Homo sapiens: one gene and its partners. The protein of the gene in region 1 purifies or fractionates together with the protein of each later gene. This does not show direct contact. Each region holds a gene or a part of one and is shown on either strand. Other genes may lie near its edges.

Region 1 (3,500 bases):
TTCTCCCAAGCAGAAAGAGTTTCACACGGTCTTAAGTTCCTACAAGGCTAACAAGTGCTCCCAGTAGCATTATGCAATTCCCTTGGCAGCTGTATTCTGACGCCATTTGTGTTTGTAAGCAAGGCCACTCTCACCACATAGTACCCAGTATTAAATATTCATTCAGGTGCAGCCTTATCCTATAGTCCTTAGAAAACATGAGAGATCAGCAAGGGGCAAAATCTTTCTCCTGAAGTATAACTCATAGCAAGCCCAGTACTGCCCTGCTGACATAACTCTATGTGATTTCAAGACTGTGCATTCTATACTTGTAGCAGATATACCAACATTGATAAAATATTCTTGCCCCAAAATGCTTTCCTGAATCTAATCATGAGGGAAAAATTAGACAAATCCAAATTGAGAAACCTCCAAAACAATTGGTATAGGTTATTCAAAAATATCAAAGTCATATAAGGAAAAGATATGGGAATTGCACTAGATTAAAAGATACTAAAAAGGCTCACCAAAGCAATCTGTGATGTTTGAGGTGAACACTCTCATGAAGTGTTATACTGTCTGCAACATACACACAGTTCAGGGAAAAGAGGCTGTACATATGTGGCAATATGTTAATATTTAGGGTAAGATACTTAGTGGCATGCAAAATGATGATATAATAAAAATCAGAGGTTAACAGTACCAGTTGGTTTCAAAAGTAGCCGTAACAATATTTTTTCTCATTTTTTGAAACTTCTTCAAATATTTAATTCTTCTTTACATCACAGAAAAGTAAATTTACGTTGCTGTCAAGTGAAAAGTCACTCTAGATAAATACTTACGGGAGCAGGTGGCAGTTTGCCACTCTAGACATTGTCCATATGGAAAAGAGATGATATAGGCATTAGAGTCAACACATCGTTTCGTACTGCTGCACCACATACACTCCATGCCATTGCTTGTACAGTTGGAACATGATGTCCTCAGAGAGCATGGCTTTTTGCACGGCCTCGCATTTTGATTTGGACTAACTGGAATAAATAAACAAATACAATAATTTCATTTTTAACTTCATGTTAACACAATTGTATGGGTTTTCTTTGCTTTGCTGTTCAGGGCATGTTTCAATTAAGCCAACTGTGGCATTATAATATGATGAGGTAGATAAAAACAAAGATGATATATCAATACTTCTTAAAATTTTTATTAAATTTGAAAATGTATAACTCCTTTGAAATTTGTAATTCTTTACAAAGTATATAAAGTTGTATAATTTTAAGTATTATAAGCAGTAATGTAATCTATGACCTAGTTTGTATACCAGCACTGTTTATTTTCCCAGCCACAATTTTTTCCCAGCCACGTTTTCCATAGCATTCCACATCTTACAAAGTAAATGTCCTGTAAGTGAACATGTCTTTGATATAAACAAAGAATAAAAATACAGCTTATCATAAAATATTACACAAGATACAATATTTATCACAGCCTTTAAGATGGCCATTATTTAAAAATAATAGGAAATAAATATTGGCAAGGATGGAGAGAAATTGAAACCTTTGTGCACTGCTGGTGGGAATGTGAAAAACAGAATTGCCACATTATTTTGTAATTCTGCTTCTGGCTATATATATATACCCCAAAGAAGTGAAAGCAAGAAGCTGAACAGTTATTCATACACCCACATTCATAGCAGCATTACTCACAATAGCAAAAAGGTAGAAGCAACGCAAGTATCCATTGATAAATGAATGGATGAACAAAATGTAGTATTTACATATAATGTAATATTGGTCAACCTTAAAAAGGAAGGAAATTCTCATATATCCTACAACTTGGTTAAACCCTAAAGACATTATGCTAAGGGAATAAGCCAGTCACAAAGCACATATACTGTATGATTTCACCATATGAGGTACCTGAAGTAGTAAATTCATAGAGACAGAAAGTAGAACAGTAGTTGCTAGGGACTGTAGGGGGTGGGGTGGAGGAAATGGAGAGTTATTGTTTAATGGGTACAGATTTTTAGTTTTGCAAAATGAAAAAGTTCTGGAGCTAAATGGTGATGATGTTTGCACAACAGTGTCAAAGTATTTAATGCCATTGAATTGGCATTAAAATACATTTACAATGGTTAAAATGGTAAATTTTAAGTACATTTTACCATGATAAAAATATAAGATTTAAAAGAAAAGAATTCAATATTCCTTTCTTACTTAACAAAAATCCATTTCAGAAGATGTAACAAAAATGTTTCTTTTTACTTGATAACTGAAATATGTCTACAAGAGTAAAAGGAGTCCCAATTAGCCATTAATCTTAAAAGCAAATCTTCTTCCCAAACACTATCATGATAAAAGTAAAAGACATTAATGAATTAAGAATAGATTATTGTCATATTATAAGTAACTACAACCACAATCTCACTATTTGAACCAACAAAGTTTGCATAAAATAATAATATTATGTTATTTTCACAAGTTAATGCTGAGATCACTAATAGTAAGTGGGGAAGAATGTGTATAAAAATAAAATTTACATAAATATCATAGAATAAGACTACACCCTAGAAGGAAGGAATGAGAAGATGGGTGGGAAACATACTTTTAAAGGAATGCTAATTTACTGGACTACTTACCAACAGGTTTTTCACAGACAAGGCCATTTGCCATAGATGTACAAGGATTAGCTTTTAAGCCTGCCACTGCAGCCCTTTCCAGATATGCACAAAACCCAGAATCATTGGGTTCGCCAGGAAGCCACTGTAGTGTTGTGTTTGTAAAAGGAGACATGTCTTCCCATCCCCAATAGGATATATTGATCTTGCGCAAGCCTACCCAAGGTGATACTTTCTGTAAACAACAGGAAAAGGGGCATTCAAAGAAAGTTAGATGTAAAAATATGGCATATTCCTTAGCAAATAGTTCACTATCATTAAAAATTATATTTGAAAATATATAAAGCTGCCTTTCTAATGAGTTTTAGTACTAAGAATAATTAACAATTATAGCATATTTTGGAGAATGATGTAGAATAGAACACTGTTTTTAAAACACAGGTTTTATATTTAGCTACATGATTGGAATAATTTATTTAGCCTTCATGAACCTCAGTTTACTCTTCTATAAAGTGGAGATATAATTATCTATCTGATAAGGTAGGATTATTTAAAAACTTAACATATTGTTATTGCTGCTGCTGCTTCTATTACTATTACTACTATCAATGTAATCAGTTATAGGATTAAGACTCTAAAGATAAATTGCCATTATCTGCATTGTGAAACTAGAAAATAAAATCAACAAACAATATATAGAGTCTGAGTGAAGACTTCATAACAAGACCTAGCAAAAAGACTTACAGAAGAATAACTGCCTCTCTCTTAGCTCAGACGTCTACAAATAAATCTGGACTTCTATATGATTTTTGGATAAATTTATGTCATATAATTTTATTAACAAAAAACAACAAAAGTAATAAAATCTGATGCTCGTGCCTATAATTTAACTAAGATTGACAAA
Region 2 (3,500 bases), on another chromosome or scaffold:
CAGACGTCGTAGCTCGCCAAGTTCTGCGGGTGGGAGCTGCGTCAACCTATCTGGCCCAGCCCTTCCTTTGGGGGGCCTGGGGGAGGATATGGCCCCGGATAGGCACTGACAGCAGGGATGGGACCTGGGGCCCAGGGTGTTGGCAGGACGCACCTTGGCCTCGATGCCGATCTTCATGATGGTGCCCGAGATGGTGAGCACATCGCTGGTGACGAGCAGGATGTACCAGCCATTGACAAATTCCAGCCGCTCCCACAGGCTGATGACCCGTCCCCGCTGCCGCCACATGAACCCCACAAACTCCTGCAGAAGGCAGGCGGGGTGAGGGCCTGACCAGGCACAGGACCCTCAAAGCCCTGGCTTTTATCGCCCCAGGGCCAGGCGGGGAGGACACCAGCACACATGACGCAGAAGCCTCACGTTCTGCAGCAGGAAGCCTCGAAGGAGTGAGCGGGCGCAGAGGAGGAAGGACAGGGAGCAGGTGAGGATGACCACCACGTCAAACAGGAGCCGGAAGCTGTTGTCTCCTGCGGGGAGGGCAGAGCGGGTAGGGCCAAGGATGGCATGGAGCCTTGGGAGGCTAGCATTGGTGCCAGGCCAGGCTGGAGACCTAGGGGGCTGCACGGCTGGTTTTGGTTGGTCAGTGGGCTCAGGGCTTGCTTGGGGTGAGTCAAGAACCCCGGTCAGTGCTGGTCTGGGGCTTGGGGGATCTCAGCACAGGACGGGGTCCCTGGTCTGTGCTGATCTGAGGCTCAGCGGATTCCTGGGGAGGTCACGGCCCCCAGGCAGCGCTGATCTGGGGCTTGGGGAATCCCAGGACAGGCCAGGGCCCCTGGTCAGTGCTGGTCTGGGGCTCAGGGGCTCACCGTGCTGGAAGACACTGGGGTGCTTACACTCCTGGATGTGGGCCTGGGTCTCCAGGCTGATGGGGATCCGCCCACTGTGTGCTTTGTTGTCAAACGTGATCTGTGGGGGCCAGTTGGGGGCAGAGTAAACCTTGGCAGCCCCAAGCCCCAAGGTCCACATGACAGGTGGCCTGACAGACCCCGGGCTCCCTCCCTCATCACCCGCACGCTTGCCCTTGGCCAGTGCTCCCAAGACACTCCCTGACCAGGTCCCTGCCCTGGAACTCAGGAGCCCTGTGGGTTCCCGGGGGGCCTCACCAGGACGCTGAAGGTATAGCAGTCCGGGATCTCATTATTGATGAGGCTCTGGAGGTTAATGGTCTTCAGCCGGAAGTGGATGGTGACATTGACCAGCCTAGGCAGGAGGCTCGGGTGAGGGTCAGGGGCGTCTTCGGGTCCCTTCCGGCCCCAAGTGCCAGCGTCCCCTGCCACGTGCTGACTCTGCAGCTGGCAGGGGAAGTGCTCACCCAGCAGGCACCAGCGCGGGCGGGGGGGCCCTGTCCCCACCTTAGGGAAGTAGTTGCTGGGGTGAGAGTGCCTAGTGTGCTGCCTCCCCCACCCTGGGCCCCCCTCGAGTGAGCAGGCAGTACTTGTGGAATTTGAGCGTGAGGTTCTTGTAACTGGAGCTGCTTTCCAAGAGGGTGAGATCGTCGCTGGGGGGCGGAGGGGGCCGCTCGGGGGGATCCACCTGGATGCAGTCTAAGGACAGGGAGTCAGGGAAGGGCCTCAGGGGGCCGGGGAGGCCAGGCTGGTCTCCCCAGAGTCCCCAGTGGCCTTCTTCCCTGTGCTTCCCCAGGGTTGGGTCATTCCTACAGGCCTGGCACTCTCTGGGCCTGCGGATGTTTTACTGAATGAGCCATATTAAAATATAACATCTGGTGCTTTCTACGTGGCAAGAGTCACACTCACACTAAGCATACTTGTTTTTTTTTTTTTTTTTTTTTTTTGAGACAGGGTCTCACTCTGTCACCCAGGGTGGAGTGCAGCAGCGTGGTCATAGCTTACTGCAGCCTCAACCTCCCGGACTCAAGCGATCCTCCTGCCTCAGCCTCCTGAGTAGCTGGGACCACAGGGGCACGCCACCACGCCCAGCTAATTTGTTTGTGCGTAGAGACAAGGTCTTCCTACGTGGCCCAGGCTGGTCTCAAACTTCTGGCCTCAAGCAATCCTTCCTCCTCAGCCTCCCAAAGTGCTGGTATTATAGGCGTGAGCCACCGTGCCCAGCCACAGCTGTTGATTTTAATCCCAGCAGCTCAGGCTCCCAACAGTGAAGCCTCGTCCTGCCCACTCACCAGTAACCACCATCGGATCAATGTCAAATGTGTCGTTGGCCGGGTCCACGTGGCCTCGGTGGTAGTACCGCTGGCAGAGAGCAAGCCCTGAGCCATTGGTCCAAGGGTCACCCCCACCACGGACATACGCATACCGGCCCAGTGACACGTCAGGCAACGCCAGGTACTGTGGGCAGAGAAGGGGAGGGCCTGTGAGTCCGGCCCGCTCTCTGCAGCCCACCCACCTGCACCTGCCCGCCCACCAGCACCTGCCCGCCCAACTGCACCTGCCCGCCCACCTGCACCTGCCTGCCCACCAGCACCTGCCCGCCCACCAGCACCTGGTCCACAGCATGGAAGATGGCCTGGTACAGCTGCTCCCGCGTGTAGGCTGCGAAGGTGTCATCCGCTCCGTCCGAGTAGCCCAGCAGGAAGAGGTGTCGGAAGGCGATGGTGTTCTCTTCCCGGAATGTCACAGCCAGCTGATTACTGAGCCCAAACAGGATGAGCTGGGGAGAGGGTAGTAGAGGTTGGCATGGCTAGGATGGGGGTTGGGGTGTATCTCCCTCAGGGCACAGGCCCTGGAAGAGGACAGGGAGGGCCCTGCAGATGTCCACTGGGGTGGGGCAGGGCCCTGCTAACTTGGGCCACAAACACGGATTTCACTTGTGCATTTCTTTGCTTTGATTAATTTCACCCCACCTCCTGGCATAAGCTCCATGCCACGCCCACCACTGTGTCCTCCCCCGTACAACACAGGGTGGGGACTCATCTATCTCACTGCAGGGACTAACGTTCATTAAATGTTTACTGGATGTCCGATTCTGTGTTAAACCCAAACTTTCAGGGTAAGTACCATGACTGGGTCCCTTTTCTTTTCTTTTTTGAGACAGAGTCTCACTCTGTTGCCCAAGTTGGAGTGCCATGGTATGATCTCAGCTCACTACAACCTCCACCCCCTGGGTTCAAGCAATTCTCCTGTCTCAGCCTCCTGAGTAGCTGAGTTACAGGTACCTGCCACCAAACCCAGCTAATTTTTGTATTTTTAGTAGAGACGGGGTTTTGCAATGTTGGCCAGGCTGGTCTCAAACTCCTGGCCTCAAATGATCCACCCAACTCAGCCTCCCAAAGTGCTGGCATTACAGGCATGAGCCACCATGCCTGGACAATTGGGTCCCTTTTCAGAGGGAAAATTAGAGGCATGGTGACATGCTAAAGTCAGCCCAAAACATGAAGTAAGCACTTAGGGCAGTGGCTGGGTCTGATTCATCTTGGGGTTCCCAGAGCCCAGCACAGGGTCTGGCATGGGGGAGGGAGAACTATC
Region 3 (3,069 bases), on another chromosome or scaffold:
GTAAGTCAAAGGGTAACCCCTCCCTCAAACTAATGTTTGAAAACTTTCCAAAAGCATCAGAGATGAACTCCAAACTTTTAACACTTAAGTCCACTTAAACTAGAAAGTGAATACAGCCAACAGATCTCAATCAAATCAATCATTTCCATTATTATTCAGCAACTGCTGTTATTGTAACTGATTTGGGGTAGGGGACATTTTTAATTCACTATGTCCTGAATCTAATGCATGAGACCCTTGAGATCTTTCTGTCTCTGCCTTCAATAAATTAAGAGCAAATTTATTTACTTCAAATAGGAAAACTGATCACTTATCAAAGGCTTTATATATTCTTTACGGATTTAGACATCACCATACCAAGAAGCCTACTCCATCTATTCCGGTCTTTGTAGGACAGGCTTCATTTTTCAGCCCATGTTCTGTAAGCCACACAGTATGCCTGCAGAAGCTGCTTATCGGAGCCAAATATAATTGTCAGTACAATTTAAAGACCACTATGTGTCCCCGGAGACCAACCTGTTTATTTCCCTGAAAGACCGCAACACCCCACACAACATGTTTCAGACATTTGGACCTTGTTAGATAAGACACTTGTAGGAGAAAGAGATTTCTTAAATTAAGTAGCTTATATACCCCTAGAGAAGGCCATACAAATCTGTAGCACAGTGTTAGCAAAGTGAAACAGTTGCAATCTAGGAGAAAATGCAGCAATTCTAGAAATACTTTCCTACTTACTTTGCCATTGTTAATCACTCTGAATGCTGAAAACATAATTAGAGAAAAACAGGGTTATATAGATACACAGCATACAAAAGACCATGCAGTTCTAAACGAGAGAAGGTAAAACTTTACCAAAAGTCAAGTAAGCTACCACCAAGAAAGGTTCAGAAAAATAAGAGCAGCGAGAAAAGCAAGCATACCATAGAAATCCGGAATTAAATTCTGCCTGGTATCTCCAGCCCCATTAGGTCTAAAATAAAATGTGCTCGAAAGAAGAAAAAAGGTTTCAGAATTTCAGTGTGGAGAAAACAGGAAAAGGAGAAGTTCCCTGCAGAGAAAGAAATGCGCTAACCCTCCCTCTTTGGGGGCCAGGGTTGGGAACTAAAGGTACTCCCACCTGCATTCCAATTCTGGCTAAATAGGGGAGTCCTTGGCTGCTACAGCAGGCCTCTCCTGACGGCCTGGCAGGGTTAAGAAGGGCGGCAAGGGCACCCACCCTGCAGTGAGTTCCCCGTGTTCCTTGAAACGGAGCGGGGCAGGGCCCCTGAGGGGTGTCTTACTTTGCAGCCATACTGCAGCGCCAGCTTGTTGAGGCTGTCCTCCTGGGCCAGCTCCCGCTGCAGCAGCACCACGTCACCTGCTCCCGCCTGGGGAGGCTGGTGGACACCGCTCTTGTGGCGCTCCTTGCCCCGGGGCCGCAAAACCACACGGTGAGACTCTTCTTCAGAAGAGTCCCCCGAGTCCCCACTGCCATTCTTAAACATGTATACGTGGCTGGTCGGAGTCCCACACACAACAGCTGGGCCTTGGAAGGTCTTGGTTAACAATTCCTCGTGCCTCATTTTCTTCACTGAAAATCAAGCCGGAGGGTTAATTCCACAGAAGACATAATCATCCCTCCACCGCCTCGTTTAAAGAGAAGTGTCTTGTTAGAGAGTATTCCTTTTCCTAATCGCTGCAAATACTCAGCATACATCATCAACAGAAAAAAAAGAATGTGCTTATGCTGGCTGAGATGGAAGAAGATAGGCAGAATAAAAACCCTTTGTTTTTTCTAATCGCATACGTTTTGTGCAGAAAACGAACCCCGCCCCTGTTCCTCATCCATAGCTGTCTCCCCTAAACCCACATCTGTAAAGAAACAACTACTTTTGCTCTCAGAGTAGTAAGTTGAGATCCTTGCAATGGCAAGTAAGGGCTGCCGCCAGCCTCCGCGCACTCAGAATCTTCAACTCAGAAGCTTTGCACAATAATTTTGTATTCAATATTTTACACATTGCAAAGTATCTTCACTAAGAAGGTCAGCGCTAAGGACTCTTGCTCAGAACTGTGGGGCTAAACTGCTCTTACTTTGACACAGTTTAACTCACAGTATGTGGGGCAAGCTACGGGGAGAACTCATGCCTGTCAGCCGGAGAAAAGCGTCCAGTTTGCTCACGGGTCACTTTGCATTCATTACATCCCCATTGTCTGGTTTTTATTTTCCCCTTGAGTCAACAGCCAAAGCCGCAAGACCCCTGTTCCTCTCTCCAGATTGTTCGCGTGAGATTCCAGAAACGAAATCTCAAACACGCGGGCTGACAACTTCAGAAAAAGGTGGCTTCGGAGCCACAGGGGAGCAGCCCGTACGGGGACAGCCTGCGGCCCCAGCTCGACCCCCTACTCCCCGCCCACGCCTTCGAGGGTCACAGGCCCACACCCCGCTCCGCGCGCTCCTGAGCCTGCCCGGAGGCGGGAGGCGGCCGGCGGTCCTCGGGGGGTTGAGGGTCACCTGCAGGACCACGGCGGCAGCCCGGGGACGGGGCCAGCCTTCGCGTCCGAGCTCAGGGGCGGCGGCAGCAGCTCCAGGCCCGCTTCCCTCCAAGTCCCTTCTGCGAAAAGATGGGGCACCTCAACAAGAGCTGACAGGAAAATGGGGAGCGGCCCGGCCCCAGGGCTCCACGGCTCCACGGGCGGGGCCCTAACATTCCAGAGGGCAGAACCTCTGACCTCTGACCCCCAACCCTAGCCACCTGGGGCCAGCCCACGACAGTCGCGGTCACCGCCCCTCCAGCTGGAGCGTCCCCCTAGGAGCCCGGGGAGGGGCGGCCCGCCCGCGAACCCTCGAGCGAGGCCAGGTCGCCGTACCGCCATGAGCCCGCGCGGCTCCCTAGCCAGACCGCGGCCCCCTCGTCCAGGCCCCGGTACCTCAGCGCCCAGGCTCCGCCGCGACCGGCGACCGGCGACTCGCGACCCGCGACCCGCGACCCGCAGCTGCCACCGCGCCTGCGGATTGGCTACGAACATCAGCAGGGCCCCCCTGGGGGCGGGACTGGGGAGGCAGCCAATGAAGTCAGCGCTGGGCGGGCA
Region 4 (3,500 bases), on another chromosome or scaffold:
CATGGCAGGCTTCCTATGGACCCAGGGCCATGCAGCCATTCGTTCCACGTTGAAACCCAGCCCACGTGTTGGAAATAGGATGAGGCCAACCACATGTGGCCTCGGGTGACACAATGGCCTCAGTGTTCTCACACCCCCATCCCAGGGACAGGAGGGCTGGGCTGTGAGGTGTTTGTGTTGCTGGTGCCAAGAGCCAAGGGTTTGGAATTTCCCCAGAGACTTCTTCCCATAATAATAGTCACAACGCCTTTGTACAGGGCTCCGTGTACCTGGCTTCATTCTAAGCACTTCCCCCGTGTATGAAGTACCGCCTCCCTCAGGCCCACGTTACAGATAAGTTACAGATAAGCAAACTGCGGCACAGAGGTTAAGTCTCACACACAGTGAGGGGGCAGCTGGATCCAGCCCAGGTCCCAGGGGCCTTTCTCCACAACAGCAGGCAGGCCTCTGCCACCTCAGGACCCAGAGCCATGTGCCTCCATGGAGAGGGCACTGGGGGCCACGTTTCTCCTACACCGTGTGAGAATAGCTTAATTAAAGGCCCCTGGGTCGCGCTCTCATGCATCCACAAAAAAATGCTGCTGCACGTGCTTGCTAGGGCTGCCGTAACCAAGCACCACGGACTGGGTGGCTCAGATAACAGAAAAGGGTTTTCTCCCAGTTCCGGAGGCCAGAAGTCTGAGATGAAGGGACGCGCGCTGCTGATGCCTTCGTTTCACCATGATGACCTCTGTCAAGGCCCTATCTCCAAATAAGGTCACGTCTTGAAGTACTGAAGGTTAGGACTTGAATCTATGAATTTGTTGGGGACACAGTTCAAGCCATCACAGCTGCTGAAGACAGTGCAGGTGGGAAATCCCTCGCTCTTCTGGCACCTCCACAGCCTGGCCTTCCCTTCACCATTTTCTGACAGGTTTTCTCCACAACAACCTATTTTCTGCTTATCCAAGGTTCACACCCCCTCATGGATAAAAAGAAAATTTCAGGAGCCACTCGTGACTGGCAAGTGTGTAAAGCCTAAATGCTGGAAGGCACCCAAAACCGCGTTCATGTGCTGTTCCTGGTGGCCCGGGACGCCACGGTGAAGAGAGGCAGGCCACTCTGACCAACACACGGGCTGACATTTGAGCCAATTCCATGTTTGGGGTAAAAGGCGAGCTGGTGTGATGCGTGACTAAGCTAAGAGGAACAATCTCTCGGCTATCTGCTAACCACAGAGGCCTTTTCACCCAACCAGCACCTCCAGGGGTTAGAGTGGAGGGCGAAAAAGAACTTTCATATTTAGCCAAATCAACCCAGAAGGGAAGTGAAGAGCCAAGAGATAGGAGGACACAGTCAGCCCATCGGGAAGCATCGCGAAACTGCGGGCAAGGCTCAGGGGAGCGGCAGCCACAGAGAGGAGCCGCAGGCCCAGCACCCAGGACCAGGAGCAGCCTCCCCCATAAGGAAACACAGCGTTGGGGTAGCTCTCACATCAGCAAACCCCAAACCCATCCTGGGCGCCCCAACTGCCTCAGATGGAAAGAGGGGAACACCACCCTCAGGGGGAGCGCCCACCCACAGCCTCTCCTTCATGACCCTGCTGTTCCCATGTGTCGTCCCCAGGGCAGGTCAAGGGCCTGACCCCAGCCTTCCAGGACTCTCCTCTTCTGCAGCTTCAAGAGGGGTTCAAGTCCCCTCTGTGAGGAAGGCTCCGGTCTCACATCTACTTTCAACCCAGCCAACAGCAGGCTCTCTGTTGAATACGAGGGGGCTGAGTGCTCAGGGCTGAGGGAATAGCCAGTGCAAAGGCCCTGGGGCAGGGCAGGACCACGTCAAGAACAGTGTGAAGATGGCAAGCCAGCAGGCAGGGGCTTCCATGAACCCCCGATTGCAGGCCACTGCATCCCGCAGAAGCGCACGTGACAGGCGGTGCAGGGCGACCAGGGCCACTTGGAGAAGGCAACAAGGGAACAAGTGTGGGGGTTGACCCTCCAGCCACAGAGAACAGCCAATTCAGAGACTCAGTGGCAGGAACAAATGTGCTGGGCCCGAGGACAGCAAGCAAGCTGTGTAGCCAGAATCACCGGAGCCACCGGCAGCCTGACAGCTTGGGAGACTTCAGCCACGACAAGAAGCGGGAAAGAGAGCTTTTCAGGTGTCATGTGGGAATGTGCATGGCCATTTCCTCTGCTGTCCCTGGGAGGCCACCGCCCATCAAAGGTGATGCTGCGACTGAGCCGGATGCATGAGGACACGTCTGCAGCCTCCATGTCCTGCCCTGTAGTTCACACTACCCTCCCACGCCAGGCTTCTTTGATCACCAAGGGCCCACTCTGGCACCTAGGACAACATTGCTGCTAAAGAGGTTAGCTCCTCAGTCCAACTCACCTGGTCACCCTGGCCACTCCCCATCTGGCCTCCAGCCTCGCCTCCTAGCCTCCTTGCTGGCTGCCCTGCTTTCTTTCTCACCCACCTCTGACTCTGCTCCTGACAGCAGCCAGTCCTTTTAACCCAGTCTCAACATGTCACTCCCCGACACAGGAGCATCCAGTGGCTTTCCATCACACTGAGGACAATCCAGGGTTGACACCACAACTGCCAGTTCCAGGATGGCCTGCCCCCTGCGCCCCTCTGAGCACCTGTCCCCACCCCTACTCTCTGGGTAGCTCTACTTTGCACACGCCGATCTCCCTGCTTTCCGCAAACGCTTCCTGTCCTGCCCTGCCTCAGGGCCTTTGCACTGGCTGTTCCCTCAGCCCTGAGCACTCAGCCCACCGTGCTCAAGTGGCTCTCTCTCCATTCGGATCTCTGCTCAAGTGCGACCCCTCAGAGAGGCCTTCTTGCCCTCCCTGACCAGCGTTTGGAGTCCAGTGCTGTGCATCCTTTGCTGTCCATCCTTTCACTCAACACACAGCCTATCCAACAGCTACTTCCTCTTCCCTCAGCTCAAATCAGTCCCGTGAGGGCAGGAACCTTGTCCATTTGGTCCTAACATGTATCCCACTGCCTAGACTTGTAGGACTCAACCAACTGGGGGCAATACTGACCCCCAGGGGACATTTGGCCATGTCTAGAGACATTTTTTGTTATTACAACTGGGAGATGGGGTGCCACTGGCATCTAGTGGATGGTGGCCAGGGATGCGGCTCAATACCCTACATTGCCCAGAACAGCCCCCCATAAAAATGAATCATCTGGACCCTAACGTCCACAGTGTCAAGGTTGAGAAACCCTGGCCTAGACGCACAGACCCAAGGAATATTTGCTGAATGAAGAAGTAATTAAGGGGCCGGGAGCAGTGGCTCAAGCCTATAATCCCAGCACTTTGGGAGGCCGAGGCGGGCACATCCCCTGAGGTCAGGAGTTCGAGACCAGCCTGGATAACATGGTGAAACTCGTCTCTACTAAAAATACAAAAATTAGCCAGGCGTGGTGGTGCGTGCCTGTAATCCCAGCTACAAGGAGGCTGAGGCAGGAGAATCACTTGAACCTGGGAGATGAAGGTTGCAGTGAGCCGA

The links. Proteins that work in one complex are often made in the same cells at the same time.
Region 2: the proteins of ATRNL1 (region 1) and MCOLN1 fractionate together in Homo sapiens (co-fractionation; one large-scale study listed by BioGRID). This does not show direct contact.
Region 3: the proteins of ATRNL1 (region 1) and LYSMD4 fractionate together in Homo sapiens (co-fractionation; one large-scale study listed by BioGRID). This does not show direct contact.
Region 4: the proteins of ATRNL1 (region 1) and CLCN4 fractionate together in Homo sapiens (co-fractionation; one large-scale study listed by BioGRID). This does not show direct contact.

What each region holds. Positions count from the first base shown.
Region 1 is NC_000010.11:115,299,365-115,302,864, reverse strand, and holds part of ATRNL1 (attractin-like protein 1 isoform 1 precursor), read right to left. Parts: intron 2,832-3,500; coding exon 2,618-2,831; intron 1,011-2,617; coding exon 822-1,010; intron 1-821. UniProt on the Homo sapiens protein: May play a role in melanocortin signaling pathways that regulate energy homeostasis.
Region 2 is NC_000019.10:7,525,624-7,529,123, reverse strand, and holds part of MCOLN1 (mucolipin-1), read right to left. Parts: intron 2,686-3,500; coding exon 2,518-2,685; intron 2,364-2,517; coding exon 2,198-2,363; intron 1,605-2,197; coding exon 1,496-1,604; intron 1,261-1,495; coding exon 1,164-1,260; intron 967-1,163; coding exon 867-966; intron 528-866; coding exon 421-527; intron 304-420; coding exon 154-303; intron 24-153; coding exon 1-23. UniProt on the Homo sapiens protein: Nonselective cation channel probably playing a role in the regulation of membrane trafficking events and of metal homeostasis. Acts as a Ca(2+)-permeable cation channel with inwardly rectifying activity.
Region 3 is NC_000015.10:99,730,438-99,733,506, forward strand, and holds the start of LYSMD4 (lysM and putative peptidoglycan-binding domain-containing protein 4), read right to left. Parts: upstream 1,571-3,069; 5' UTR 1,563-1,570; coding exon 1,281-1,562; exon of another isoform or gene 986-1,280; coding exon of another isoform or gene 921-985; exon of another isoform or gene 772-920; coding exon of another isoform or gene 736-771; exon of another isoform or gene 358-735; intron 1-357.
Region 4 is NC_000023.11:10,163,475-10,166,974, reverse strand, and holds part of CLCN4 (H(+)/Cl(-) exchange transporter 4), read right to left. Parts: intron 1-3,500. UniProt on the Homo sapiens protein: Strongly outwardly rectifying, electrogenic H(+)/Cl(-)exchanger which mediates the exchange of chloride ions against protons.